Linked DNA regions of Homo sapiens. The protein of the gene in region 1 purifies or fractionates together with the protein of each later gene. This does not show direct contact. Each region holds a gene or a part of one and is shown on either strand. Other genes may lie near its edges.

Region 1 (5,224 bases):
ACGGTAAAACCCCATCTCTGCTAAAAATACAAAAAATTAGCCGGGCATGGTGGCACGTGCCTGTAGTCCCAGCTACTCTGGAGGCTGAGGCAGGAGAATGGTGTGAACCCGGGAGGCGGAGCTTGCATTGAGCAGAGATCGCGCCACTGCACTCCAGCCTGGGTGACAGAGTGAGACTCTGTCTCGAAAAAAAAAAAAAAAGTAGCCCTCTGGCCAGGCATGGTGGCTCACACCTCTAATCCCAACACTTTGGGAGGCTCAAGCAGGAAGATCACTTGAGGCCAGAGTTCAACACCAGCCTGGGCAACATAGTAAGACCCCATCTCTACAAAAAATTTAAAAATTAGCAAGGCATGGTAGCACATGCCTTGAGAGGCTAAGGCAGGAAGATCACTATGATTGTGCCACTGCACTCCAGCCTGGGCGACACAGCAAGACCCTGTCTCTGAAAATAAAGTGGGCCTCTGTCACATTCTTCCCTATCTTTCATAAGTAGCTACCCTCACCTCTTCTAGTTGTTGTCCCTGGTACTTATCTCCATATTTTCAAAGTTTAGGCTCTTGTCACTATTTCTTATTTTATCAGTTTTAGATCTTACTTATTGATCTCTGGCCATGGTAGAAGAGGATGTAGTTCTCACATAGAGCAAAATGACTCATATCTTCTAACCGAAAGGACCTACCAAATGTTCTGTACAATGAATGAAAAAAAAAAAAAAACAGTCAAAATAACCATTTTCAGAACACCAGAAATAAAGGCCCTAAAAGCTTCCAGAAAGGAAAATAAAACAGGTCTAACCTAAGTAAAGGATCAAGAATCAGATGGCATCAAAATTTATATAGTTATAAATGCCTCAGAGAATACTGTCAAGAAAGTGAAAAGACAAGGTGGACGTGGTAGCACATGCCTGTAGTCCCAGCTACGTGGGAAGCTTGAGGCAAAAGGAATTCCTTGAGACCAGGAGTTCACGGCTACAGTAAGCTATGATTATGCCTGCAAATAGCCTGGGCACCATGAGACCCTATCTCTAAATAAATTAATTAAATGAAATAGAAAGTGAAAAGGCAGCTCACAGAATGGGAGAAAATATTTGTAAATCCTATATCCGAAAAGTGTCTAGAATTCAGAATACATAAAGAACTATTACAACTCAACAAAAAGACAACTCATTTTAAAAAGGGGCAAAGCAATAGAACTTTCTCCAAAGAGGATAAACAAATGGCCAATAAGCATGTGAAAAGATGCTCAACATCGTTGGGCATTAGGGAAATGCAAATCAAAACCACAATGAGATACCACTTCAGCACCATCTAGGGTATCTGTAATAAAAAAATTAAAAAAAAAGGAAATGTCAAGTGTTGGCTAGGATGTGGAGAAATTGGAACCCTCATACGTTGCTGGTGGAATGTAAAATGGTGCAGCTGCTTTGGAAAACAGTCTGGCAGTTCCTTAAACAGTTAAACATAGAATTACCATAGAATCCAGTAATTCTACTCCTAGGTATGTACTCAAGGGAAATGAAAACATAGACAAAAGCTTGTATACAACTGTTCATATGAGCATTATTTCTAATATCCAAAAGTAGAAACCACCAAAATGCTCATCAGCTGATGAATGGAAAAACAAAGTGTGGTATTTTATACAATGAAAAGTATTCAACCATTACAAGGAAGGAAATACTAACATGTGCCGCAACGTAGATGAATCTTGAAAACATGCTGAGTGAAAAAAGCCAGACACAAAAGTCCACTTTTATATCATTCAGTTTTTATGAAATATTCAGAAGAGGCAACTCCATAGAAACAAAGATTTCCAATATTTTCTTTGTGCTTTAATATGGCCCTTTCTCTCTCTCTCTCTCCCCTTTCTCTTTCTCCCTCCCTCCACACATACATATATACACATATATGTAAATGTACATACACACACACACACACACACACACACACACACAGTCATCTTGGTATCCACAGGGGATTGGTTCCAGGACTCCCTGTGGATACCAAATCTGCAGATGCTCAAGTCCCTTATATAAAATGGTGTAATATTTGTATAGAACCTACATATATTCTGTGTATTTTAAATCTTCTGTAAATTACAGTACCTAACATAATGTAAATTCTATGTAAATAAGTATTATACTGTATTGATGAGGGAATAATGACAAGAAAAAAATCTGTATCTGTCCAGTACAGATGCAACCATCTATTTTTAAATTTTTTAAATATTTTCATTCTGTGGTTGGTTGAATCCTTGGATGTGGAATCTGTGGATGTGGAAGACCAGCTGTATATTTTGAGGATATTTGATGGAGTGTACATCTGTGCTCAGGAAACATATGTAGTTATTAAATCAGGAAAAGCTATTGATAAATTTTCCATTTGATAGATGTACAACCTCTTAGTCATTTTGTTAGAGTATCAAAAAATATTTTCATGTTGTATGTCAAAATAAACTTAATAAGTGATACTTTTTTTCTTTTTAGACCTTAACTGATGTAAGAAATCTCAAATTTCCACCATTATTTACTCAGAAATATCCTTGTGAGGTATGTGTAATTCTCATCTTTTATCTTCTTTAGAATCATCTTTAGAACGTAAGCGGTCCTTAGCAGTCGACTCAGTTTCCCCTATTTTACAGATGAGGAAGCCAAAGGTCTAGAGAGGAAAGAGACCTGCTCCCAAGAGCCCAGAATTTGTTAAAACCAAACACTGGAGCTGGGGCCTGGCTCCTTCAGCCTAATGTCCAGTGTTCCACACTGTAGCACCTGTGAAATTTATATATTGATAAATCTTGAATTTCCTTAAGTAATTAAGTTGAAGTGAGTTAGTATGTGTTCATTTTCAAATTGGAAAAAGTCAAAATTTATCTTTCAGTATTATAATGAAGGGTTGCATTAAAAAATGGACTTTATAACAATATATTAATACCTACATATACTTAAGTCTGTTTTACTAAAAATTGTCATCATGTATTTTGCAAACTTGATGAATCTATTCCCAGGGTGGCTCATAAGAGTACATGTTACGTTCAAAGAGATTTTTAAAAACCAAGAAAAGGTGTTGGTTGCTGATCTCTGCCATAATTTTTTCTAATTAAAATTTCTATTGAGATAATTGTAGATTTACATGCAATTATAAGATGATTTTTAAAAATCATATTTATGTTTCAGGGATGTGATTAAATAATCCTTTATAATGTGTTAGAAAATCAAATTACCCAAAAATTGTCCATGTTTTTTTGGAATGAGGGTTGGCAAACTAGTGCCCACAGGTCAAATCCAGCCTGCCACCTATTTTTATAATAAAGTTCTATTGGAACACAGCCATGCCCATTAATTTACAAATTGTCTCTGGATGCTTTTGTGCATTGACGGCAGAGCTGAGTAGTTGTATCAGAGACTTGAAAACTCGAATATGGCTCAAAAGCTTAAAATATGTACAGAAATATTTTGCCAGCACTGATTTTAAAAACTGTACAGTGATCAAACCTGGCCGTTTTATCACAAAACAATTTTTATATTTTCAGTACGTGATGGTTCAAGACATGCTCTCTCCATCCCCCATGGAACGACCTGAAGCTATAAACATCATTGAAAATGCTGTATTTGAGGACTTGGACTTTCCAGGAAAAACAGTGCTCAGACAGAGGTCTCGCTCCTTGAGTTCATCGGGAACAAAACATTCAAGACAGTCCAACAACTCCCATAGCCCTTTGCCAAGCAATTAGCCTTAAGTTGTGCTAGCAACCCTAATAGGTGATGCAGATAATAGCCTACTTCTTAGAATATGCCTGTCCAAAATTGCAGACTTGAAAAGTTTGTTCTTCGCTCAATTTTTTTGTGGACTACTTTTTTTATATCAAATTTAAGCTGGATTTGGGGGCATAACCTAATTTGAGCCAACTCCTGAGTTTTGCTATACTTAAGGAAAGGGCTATCTTTGTTCTTTGTTAGTCTCTTGAAACTGGCTGCTGGCCAAGCTTTATAGCCCTCACCATTTGCCTAAGGAGGTAGCAGCAATCCCTAATATATATATATAGTGAGAACTAAAATGGATATATTTTTATAATGCAGAAGAAGGAAAGTCCCCCTGTGTGGTAACTGTATTGTTCTAGAAATATGCTTTCTAGAGATATGATGATTTTGAAACTGATTTCTAGAAAAAGCTGACTCCATTTTTGTCCCTGGCGGGTAAATTAGGAATCTGCACTATTTTGGAGGACAAGTAGCACAAACTGTATAACGGTTTATGTCCGTAGTTTTATAGTCCTATTTGTAGCATTCAATAGCTTTATTCCTTAGATGGTTCTAGGGTGGGTTTACAGCTTTTTGTACTTTTACCTCCAATAAAGGGAAAATGAAGCTTTTTATGTAAATTGGTTGAAAGGTCTAGTTTTGGGAGGAAAAAAGCCGTAGTAAGAAATGGATCATATATATTACAACTAACTTCTTCAACTATGGACTTTTTAAGCCTAATGAAATCTTAAGTGTCTTATATGTAATCCTGTAGGTTGGTACTTCCCCCAAACTGATTATAGGTAACAGTTTAATCATCTCACTTGCTAACATGTTTTTATTTTTCACTGTAAATATGTTTATGTTTTATTTATAAAAATTCTGAAATCAATCCATTTGGGTTGGTGGTGTACAGAACACACTTAAGTGTGTTAACTTGTGACTTCTTTCAAGTCTAAATGATTTAATAAAACTTTTTTTAAATTAAGTATGTTGACTCTTATTTTGAGGAGTTAGTCCCAAAATGGTAGATTTTCTAATTTATAAAATGGGATCATAGATCTAGGAAGAGTCATAAACCTATCCTCAAAAAAACTTCTTCCTAACCCATTTCAGACAGGTATCTTTTTCATCATTTCCCAAAGACTTGGCAGGCCCTTTCAAAATTCACAAGATCCATAATTGACAGACATTTGCCCAGTACCTACCCTGTGCCAAGGACTGAGAATATAGAGGACTTTCCCCTAAAGGGAGAGCTCTCAGAGAAAAGGGCTGTGGTGATGCTAGTTGTATTGATACCGAGGTGTATCTGACATGTGCCACATCGAGGCATGTGGCAGGCTGGGCTGATGGGGCATGAACCAGCTAGACACAATCTAGAAAGGTCAAAATGCATAGCATCTCCATATTACAAACAAATAATGTCTGCCACGCAAGGTTATGAGCAACTTGTACGCTGGAAAAACACTTCCCAGATCTTTGTGGCTG
Region 2 (7,528 bases), on another chromosome or scaffold:
GCTTGTCACTTTGTAGATATCTCATCCAATTCAATCTCCCTTATTTTTATTTATTTATTTATTTATTTATTTTGAGACAGAATCTCACTCTGTCGCCTAGGCTGGAATACAGTGGCACGATCACTGCATTTGAACTCCTGGGCTCAAGCAATTTTCCCTCCTCAGCCTCCGAATAGCTGGGACCACAGGCGCACACCACCATGCCCAGCTAATTAAAGTTTTCTGTAGAGATGGGGTGTCACTATGTTACCCAGGCTGGTCTCGAACTCCTGAGCTCAAGCAATCCTCCCATCTCAGCCTACCAAAATGCTGGGATCACAGGCATGAGCCACCGCCCCCAGTTCTCAACCTCTCTTTAAGAAAACCAAGGCTGGGCCGGACACAGTGGCTCACGCCTATAATCCCAGCACTTTGGGAGGCCAAGGCAGGCAGATCACTTGAGGTGAGGAGTTGGAGACAAGCCTGGCCCACATGGTGAAACCCCATCTCTACTAAAAAAACAAAAAAATTGGGGCCAGGTGCCATGGCTCACGCCTGTAATCCTAGCACTTTGGGAGGCCGAGGCGGGTGGATCACAAGGTCAGGAGATTGAGACCATTCTGGCTAATGTGGTGAAACCCCACATCTACTAAAAATACAAAAAAAAATTAGCCGGGCATGGTGGCGGGCGCCTGTAGTCCCAGCTACTTGGGAGGCTGAGGCAGGAGAATGGCGTGAACCCGGGAGGCAGAGCTTGCAGTGAGCTGAGATCACGCCACTGCACTCCAGCCTGGGTGACAGAGCGAGACTCCATCTGAAAAAAAAAAAAAAAATTAGCTGGATATGGTGGTGCACGCCCATGATCCCAGCTACTTGGAAGGCTGAGGCACAAGAATTGCTTGAACCTGGGAGGCAGAGGCTACAGTGAGCGGAGATCACGCCACTGCACTCCAGCCTGGGCGACAGAGCAAGACTCTGTCTCCAAAAAAAAGAAAGAAAGAAAAGAAAAAAAAAACCAAGGTCCAGAGCAATTCACTAACTTACCCAAAGCAGGGCCGCTAGAGATGGTTGTGCACATTACTCCCTACATAGGGATGTCTGGCCAAGGATCCACACTCCACTGGCCGTGCTGTGTACCCGCCCAGCAGCATCACCCAACCCAGAGAGTGCGCCTTTTCCACTCTACATGAAGGTGCTCTGTGGACTTACTGTAAACAGCCTCCTCAGTAGTCAGTCAGTAGTAGAGACAGAATCCAAACCCAGGTCTGATTCCAAAGCCTCTGTTTTGTTTCTGTTTTCTGTTTGTTTTTTTTTGAGACAGGGTCTTGCTCTGTCACTCAGGATGGAATGCAGTAGTGTTGTGATCATAGCTTACTGCAGCCTCGAACTCCTGGGCTCAAATGATCCAAAGCATTGGGATTACAGGCATGAGCCACCATACCCAGCCAGCCAAAGCCTCTGTTTTTGCCCATATCACACTCATTCTCCTCCAGAAGACAAGGGCCATATCTGGTTAATCTCCTGCTGTTCCACTCAATGCCTGGCTCATCATAGGTGGGCAGTAAATGCTTATCAGTGAGTAACTGGAGAACAACATGGCCCTTCCTTATAGGCCAAAAAGCAAATGGATTTCCACCTGACAAATCTTCGGGATCCAAGAAGCAGAAACAATATCAGCGGATTCGGAAGGAGAAGCCTCAACAACACAACTTCACCCACCGCCTCCTGGCTGCAGCTCTGAAGGTACGTGGGGTACCTGGCACAGCGTGCACCCTGAGACTCAGCCCCACAGGCTTTTCCTCTGGAGTATTCCATGCATGTTACAGGCTCTCCTGCCTCTGATCAGAATCAGCGGGGGTGCTTAATTCTGTCCCCTCTCATCGCAGCCCAATCTCAGCTTGCTGTTAATCCAGGCCACAGGGCCCCATCTCCCCGGCTCCAGGTTTGGCTTCCCCATCTCCCCCAGGAGCTCCTATTGACACTTCCTGCCACCCTTCCCCTAGAGCCACAGCGGGAACATATCTTGCATGGACTTTAGCAGCAATGGCAAATACCTGGCTACCTGTGCAGATGATCGCACCATCCGCATCTGGAGCACCAAGGACTTCCTGCAGCGAGAGCACCGCAGCATGAGAGCCAACGTGGAGCTGGACCACGCCACCCTGGTGCGCTTCAGCCCTGACTGCAGGTGGGACAAGACGGAGCCTCAGGTTTGCCTGCAGAGGCCTAGTCCCAGGCTTTGGCCTTCCCATATCTGCTTTGAGGTAGTGAGGAGGGACCTGGACCCAGGGCCTCCCTTGGGGTGCCAGAAAGAGCATCCACATAGTTTGCGCGCTGCCTGGGGCTCCCTGGAGATCTGGGCTGCTATACAGCAAGGAAACAGGGGGAGGTCTCTTCCTACCTGGAAATACCTTGGCCTGGCTTCCAGATGAGCCTTAGTTTCTAAACCCTAGAGAGAAACTAAAGGAGCCAAAGCTATCAGAATCTTACCTTTTGAGGAGTTTTATGAGATTTGGAACCAGGGGCTTAAGTTTTAAGGCTAGACTGTGGGGCATGAGGAGAGATCTTGACTTCCCCGAGAACCCAGCACAGGACCTGGAACACAGAGCCTCTTTGTCCAGTGAGAGCGTGACTTGTCTGCTGCCTGTCTCTAGAGCCTTCATCGTCTGGCTGGCCAACGGGGACACCCTCCGTGTCTTCAAGATGACCAAGCGGGAGGATGGGGGCTACACCTTCACAGCCACCCCAGAGGACTTCCCTAAAAAGCACAAGGCGCCTGTCATCGACATTGGCATTGCTAACACAGGTAAGAGGCATTCAGAGGGTGGCGCCTGCCCAAAGCATGAAGGAAAGATCCAGTTCTATTTCCTCAATGAGTTAATGCTGCCTGAAAGTTCTGCTCAACCTGAGAGGAACAAGGGGTCCCTGGCTCTGAACAGCCTGGCTCTGTGCTCCCCTGGAGTCCCTGGGCCACACCAGGTCCCTAGGGAAGGTGGGGAAGGGCCACAGTCTTCAGCAGAGTCCTTATCTGTAGTGACCCTTGGCCTGGGAGGAGACATGTATACTTCGGGCAGCAGAGGCCTTGTAAGTGTCTTTGGAGAGTGACAGTTGGTCAGGTCACTGCCCGTGACCCACATCACTCCCTTCCCGCTCAGGGAAGTTTATCATGACTGCCTCCAGTGACACCACTGTCCTCATCTGGAGCCTGAAGGGTCAAGTGCTGTCTACCATCAACACCAACCAGATGAACAACACACACGCTGCTGTATCTCCCTGTGGCAGGTGGGCAAGGAGGGGTATTGGCGTCTGGGACCACGAGAGGCTGGGGCTGGGGAGCAGGCACAGAACAGAGAGCCAGCTTCATCGCGTGGGAAGAGCATACGGGGTGGGGTCAGGAACCCGAGCTTCAAGTCTCAGCTCTCCCCACTTGCAGTAGTGGGATTTCATGCAGGTCGCCCCATGTCCTTAGTCGCTATTTCTTCATCTTCAGTGTTTTTGTTTTTTAGAAAATTAGTCTCACTCTGTCACCCAGGCTGGAGCACAGTGGTGCGATCATAGCTCACTGCAGCCTCAAACTCCTGGGTTGTAGCTATTCTCCCAGCTCAGCCTCCTGAGTAGTCAGGACTATAGGCATGTGCCACTGTACTCAGCTAATTTTTGTTTTTTGTTTGTTTGTTTGTTGAGACGGTTTCACCCTCGCCCAGGCAGGAGTGCAGTGGCGCAATCACAGCTCACTGTAGCCTTGACTTCCCAGGCTCAGACCATCCTCCCACCTTAGCCTCCCGAGTAGCTGGGACTACAGGCGTGCACTACCACACCTGGCTAATTTTTGTATTTTTTGTTGAGATGGGGTCTTACTATGTTGCCCAGGCTGGTCCTGAACTCCTGGCCTCAAGTGATCCTCTTGCCTCGACCTCCCAAAGTGGTAGAATTACAGGCGTGAGCCACTGTGCCAAGCCACCTTTGGGCGGGGATGTTACATATCTTAGAACAAGGCTAGAAGATAAACTGAGGTCACATACATAAAAGAACTTTTTTGTTGTGGTTGTTTGTTTGTTTTTTGAGATGGAGTTTCGCTCTTGTTGCTTAGGTTGGAGTGCAATGGCAGGATCTTGGCTCACCACAACCTCCGTCTCCCGGGTTCAAGCGATTCTCCTGCCTCAGCCTCCCCCAAGTAGCTGGGATTACAGGCATGCACCACCATGCCCAGCTAATTTTTTATTTTTAGTAGAGGTGAGGTTTCTCCATGTTGGTCAGGCTGGTCTCAAACTGTCGGACCTTAGGTGAGCTGCCCGCCTGGGCCTCCCAAAGTGCTGGGATTACAGGTATGAGCCACCACACCCGGCCTTTTTTTTTTTTTTTTTCTGAGACAGTCTCACTCTGTTGCCCAGGCTGGAGTGCAGTGGTGCAATCTCAATCTCAGCTCACTGCAACCTCCACCTACCAGGTTCAAGTGATTCTCCCACCTCAGCCTTCCCAGTAGGTGGGACTACAGGCATGCGCCACCACGCCTGGCTAATTTTGTATTTTTAGTAGAGATGAGGTTTCACCATGTTGGCCAGGCTGGTCTCGAACTCCTGACCTCAGGTGATCCACCCACCTCGGCCTCCCAAAGTGCTGGGATGACAGGCGTGAGCCACCGCGCCCGGCCAAAATAACTCTTTAAAGGTTTATATTATCCAGATATGAGGATTATCAACTTTCTCAGGAAAGAGATTGAGGGGTTTTACAGGAACAACATGCTCCGAAAATGAAGTTTTAAAGGCTTCTGGGTTGTATGGCAGATTTGTAGCCTCGTGTGGCTTCACCCCAGATGTGAAGGTTTGGGAAGTCTGCTTTGGAAAGAAGGGGGAGTTCCAGGAGGTGGTGCGAGCCTTCGAACTAAAGGGCCACTCCGCGGCTGTGCACTCGTTTGCTTTCTCCAACGACTCACGGAGGTGAGTGAATCCGCTCTGATGTCTGACCAGTGGCTCTTGGCCCCTCTTGACAACCAGGGTCCTTCTGTCTGTTTGTGCCATGGCTCTGAAGAGGGTGGGGTGCCTGGCCCTCGGCAGGAAGCTGACTTAGCTTCCTAGCTGGAGCTGCTCAAGTTGGGCCAGTGCTTACCCTGCCAGGGTGTGTTGGGGCTTGAGCTGTGATTTTCTGTGTTGCAGGATGGCTTCTGTCTCCAAGGATGGTACATGGAAACTGTGGGACACAGATGTGGAATACAAGAAGAAGCAGGACCCCTACTTGCTGAAGACAGGCCGCTTTGAAGAGGCGGCGGGTGCCGCGCCGTGCCGCCTGGCCCTCTCCCCCAACGCCCAGGTCTTGGCCTTGGCCAGTGGCAGTAGTATTCATCTCTACAATACCCGGCGGGGCGAGAAGGAGGAGTGCTTTGAGCGGGTCCATGGCGAGTGTATCGCCAACTTGTCCTTTGACATCACTGGCCGCTTTCTGGCCTCCTGTGGGGACCGGGCGGTGCGGCTGTTTCACAACACTCCTGGCCACCGAGCCATGGTGGAGGAGATGCAGGGCCACCTGAAGCGGGCCTCCAACGAGAGCACCCGCCAGAGGCTGCAGCAGCAGCTGACCCAGGCCCAAGAGACCCTGAAGAGCCTGGGTGCCCTGAAGAAGTGACTCTGGGAGGGCCCGGCGCAGAGGATTGAGGAGGAGGGATCTGGCCTCCTCATGGCACTGCTGCCATCTTTCCTCCCAGGTGGAAGCCTTTCAGAAGGAGTCTCCTGGTTTTCTTACTGGTGGCCCTGCTTCTTCCCATTGAAACTACTCTTGTCTACTTAGGTCTCTCTCTTCTTGCTGGCTGTGACTCCTCCCTGACTAGTGGCCAAGGTGCTTTTCTTCCTCCCAGGCCCAGTGGGTGGAATCTGTCCCCACCTGGCACTGAGGAGAATGGTAGAGAGGAGAGGAGAGAGAGAGAGAATGTGATTTTTGGCCTTGTGGCAGCACATCCTCACACCCAAAGAAGTTTGTAAATGTTCCAGAACAACCTAGAGAACACCTGAGTACTAAGCAGCAGTTTTGCAAGGATGGGAGACTGGGATAGCTTCCCATCACAGAACTGTGTTCCATCAAAAAGACACTAAGGGATTTCCTTCTGGGCCTCAGTTCTATTTGTAAGATGGAGAATAATCCTCTCTGTGAACTCCTTGCAAAGATGATATGAGGCTAAGAGAATATCAAGTCCCCAGGTCTGGAAGAAAAGTAGAAAAGAGTAGTACTATTGTCCAATGTCATGAAAGTGGTAAAAGTGGGAACCAGTGTGCTTTGAAACCAAATTAGAAACACATTCCTTGGGAAGGCAAAGTTTTCTGGGACTTGATCATACATTTTATATGGTTGGGACTTCTCTCTTCGGGAGATGATATCTTGTTTAAGGAGACCTCTTTTCAGTTCATCAAGTTCATCAGATATTTGAGTGCCCACTCTGTGCCCAAATAAATATGAGCTGGGGATTAAATACGAATAAGACATGGTTTCTGCCATCAAAGATGGCTGGTGGGAGAGAGAGATACACCCTTATTAAGTGCTTTGTGTTAGTTTATTCATAGCTATTGTTATATATGTCAAGGCAAGAGAGGACCAGAGCAGGACAGAGGCAATGGGTATTGAAGTTGAAGGGGTACATTTGATAAGAGAGTCGGTATTGAGAAGTTTAAATTTGTGAATTTGAAGGCTGCGTGGGTGTGGCAGGTAAGGGAAATGAGGTATCTGGGAAGGCTTGAGTGTAGGCAAATTTATTCATCCCAAGTCAAACTCTTGATCTCTCTCACGAAAACTATGACCCCCCCTGGTTGCCCCTGACCTCTCAATGTTGGAACAAGCCACAACCGTGGAGTTATCCTTGATGACTCCCCATTCATTATCCCTTCTGTCCCACCACCACAGCTGTCATCTGTTCACCAGAACGTTCTTTTGGTTACACTCCATGTGACATCCTGAGGCTGTTGCTTCTCTCCAGCTTTTCTGTTACCATCCTGGTCCTGGCTACTGTCACCTAGTGGGCCACTATAATATGGCTTCCTAATGGATCTTCCTGCTTCCTCTGTTGCCTCATTACTTTTCTATATAGCAGAATGATCTTTTGAAAATGTGAACCAGATCACATTATTCCCTAGTTAAAACCCCCCAAGGCTTCCCATCACACTTGGAATAAAATCCAAAAGAATTTTTCTAAACCAAAAATAGTAAAAACAATTTTTTTTTTCTGACAATCTCTTGTCACCCAGGCTGGAGTACAATGGCGCAATCTCGGCTCACTGCAACCGCCGCCTCCTAGGTTCAAGCGATTCTCCTGCCTCAGCCTCCAGAGTAGCTGGGATTACAGGCATGTGCCACCACGCCTGGCTAATTTTTGTATTTTTAGTAGAGACAGGGTTTCACGATGTTGGCCAGGCTGCTCTCGAACTCCTGACCTCAAATGATCCACCACCCCCCTTGGCCTCCCCAAGTGCTGGGATTACAGGTGTGAGCCATCGTGCCTAGCTAAAAACACTTAATCCAAAATTCTTACCATGGCCTGCAAGGTCCTGTGTAACCTGGCTTCGTCCCC

The links.
Region 2: the proteins of EIF2AK3 (region 1) and TBL2 purify together in Homo sapiens (affinity purification with western blotting; 3 studies listed by BioGRID). This does not show direct contact.

The regions. Positions count from the first base shown.
Region 1 is NC_000002.12:88,556,241-88,561,464, reverse strand, and holds the end of EIF2AK3 (eukaryotic translation initiation factor 2-alpha kinase 3 isoform 1 precursor), read left to right. Parts: intron 1-2,485; coding exon 2,486-2,548; intron 2,549-3,528; coding exon 3,529-3,729; 3' UTR 3,730-4,724; downstream 4,725-5,224. UniProt on the Homo sapiens protein: Metabolic-stress sensing protein kinase that phosphorylates the alpha subunit of eukaryotic translation initiation factor 2 (EIF2S1/eIF-2-alpha) in response to various stress, such as unfolded protein response (UPR).
Region 2 is NC_000007.14:73,568,577-73,576,104, reverse strand, and holds part of TBL2 (transducin beta-like protein 2), read left to right. Parts: intron 1-1,591; coding exon 1,592-1,722; intron 1,723-1,982; coding exon 1,983-2,167; intron 2,168-2,633; coding exon 2,634-2,785; intron 2,786-3,134; coding exon 3,135-3,261; intron 3,262-4,069; coding exon of another isoform or gene 4,070-4,157; exon of another isoform or gene 4,158-4,350; intron 4,351-4,763; coding exon 4,764-4,916; intron 4,917-5,132; coding exon 5,133-5,598; 3' UTR 5,599-7,528.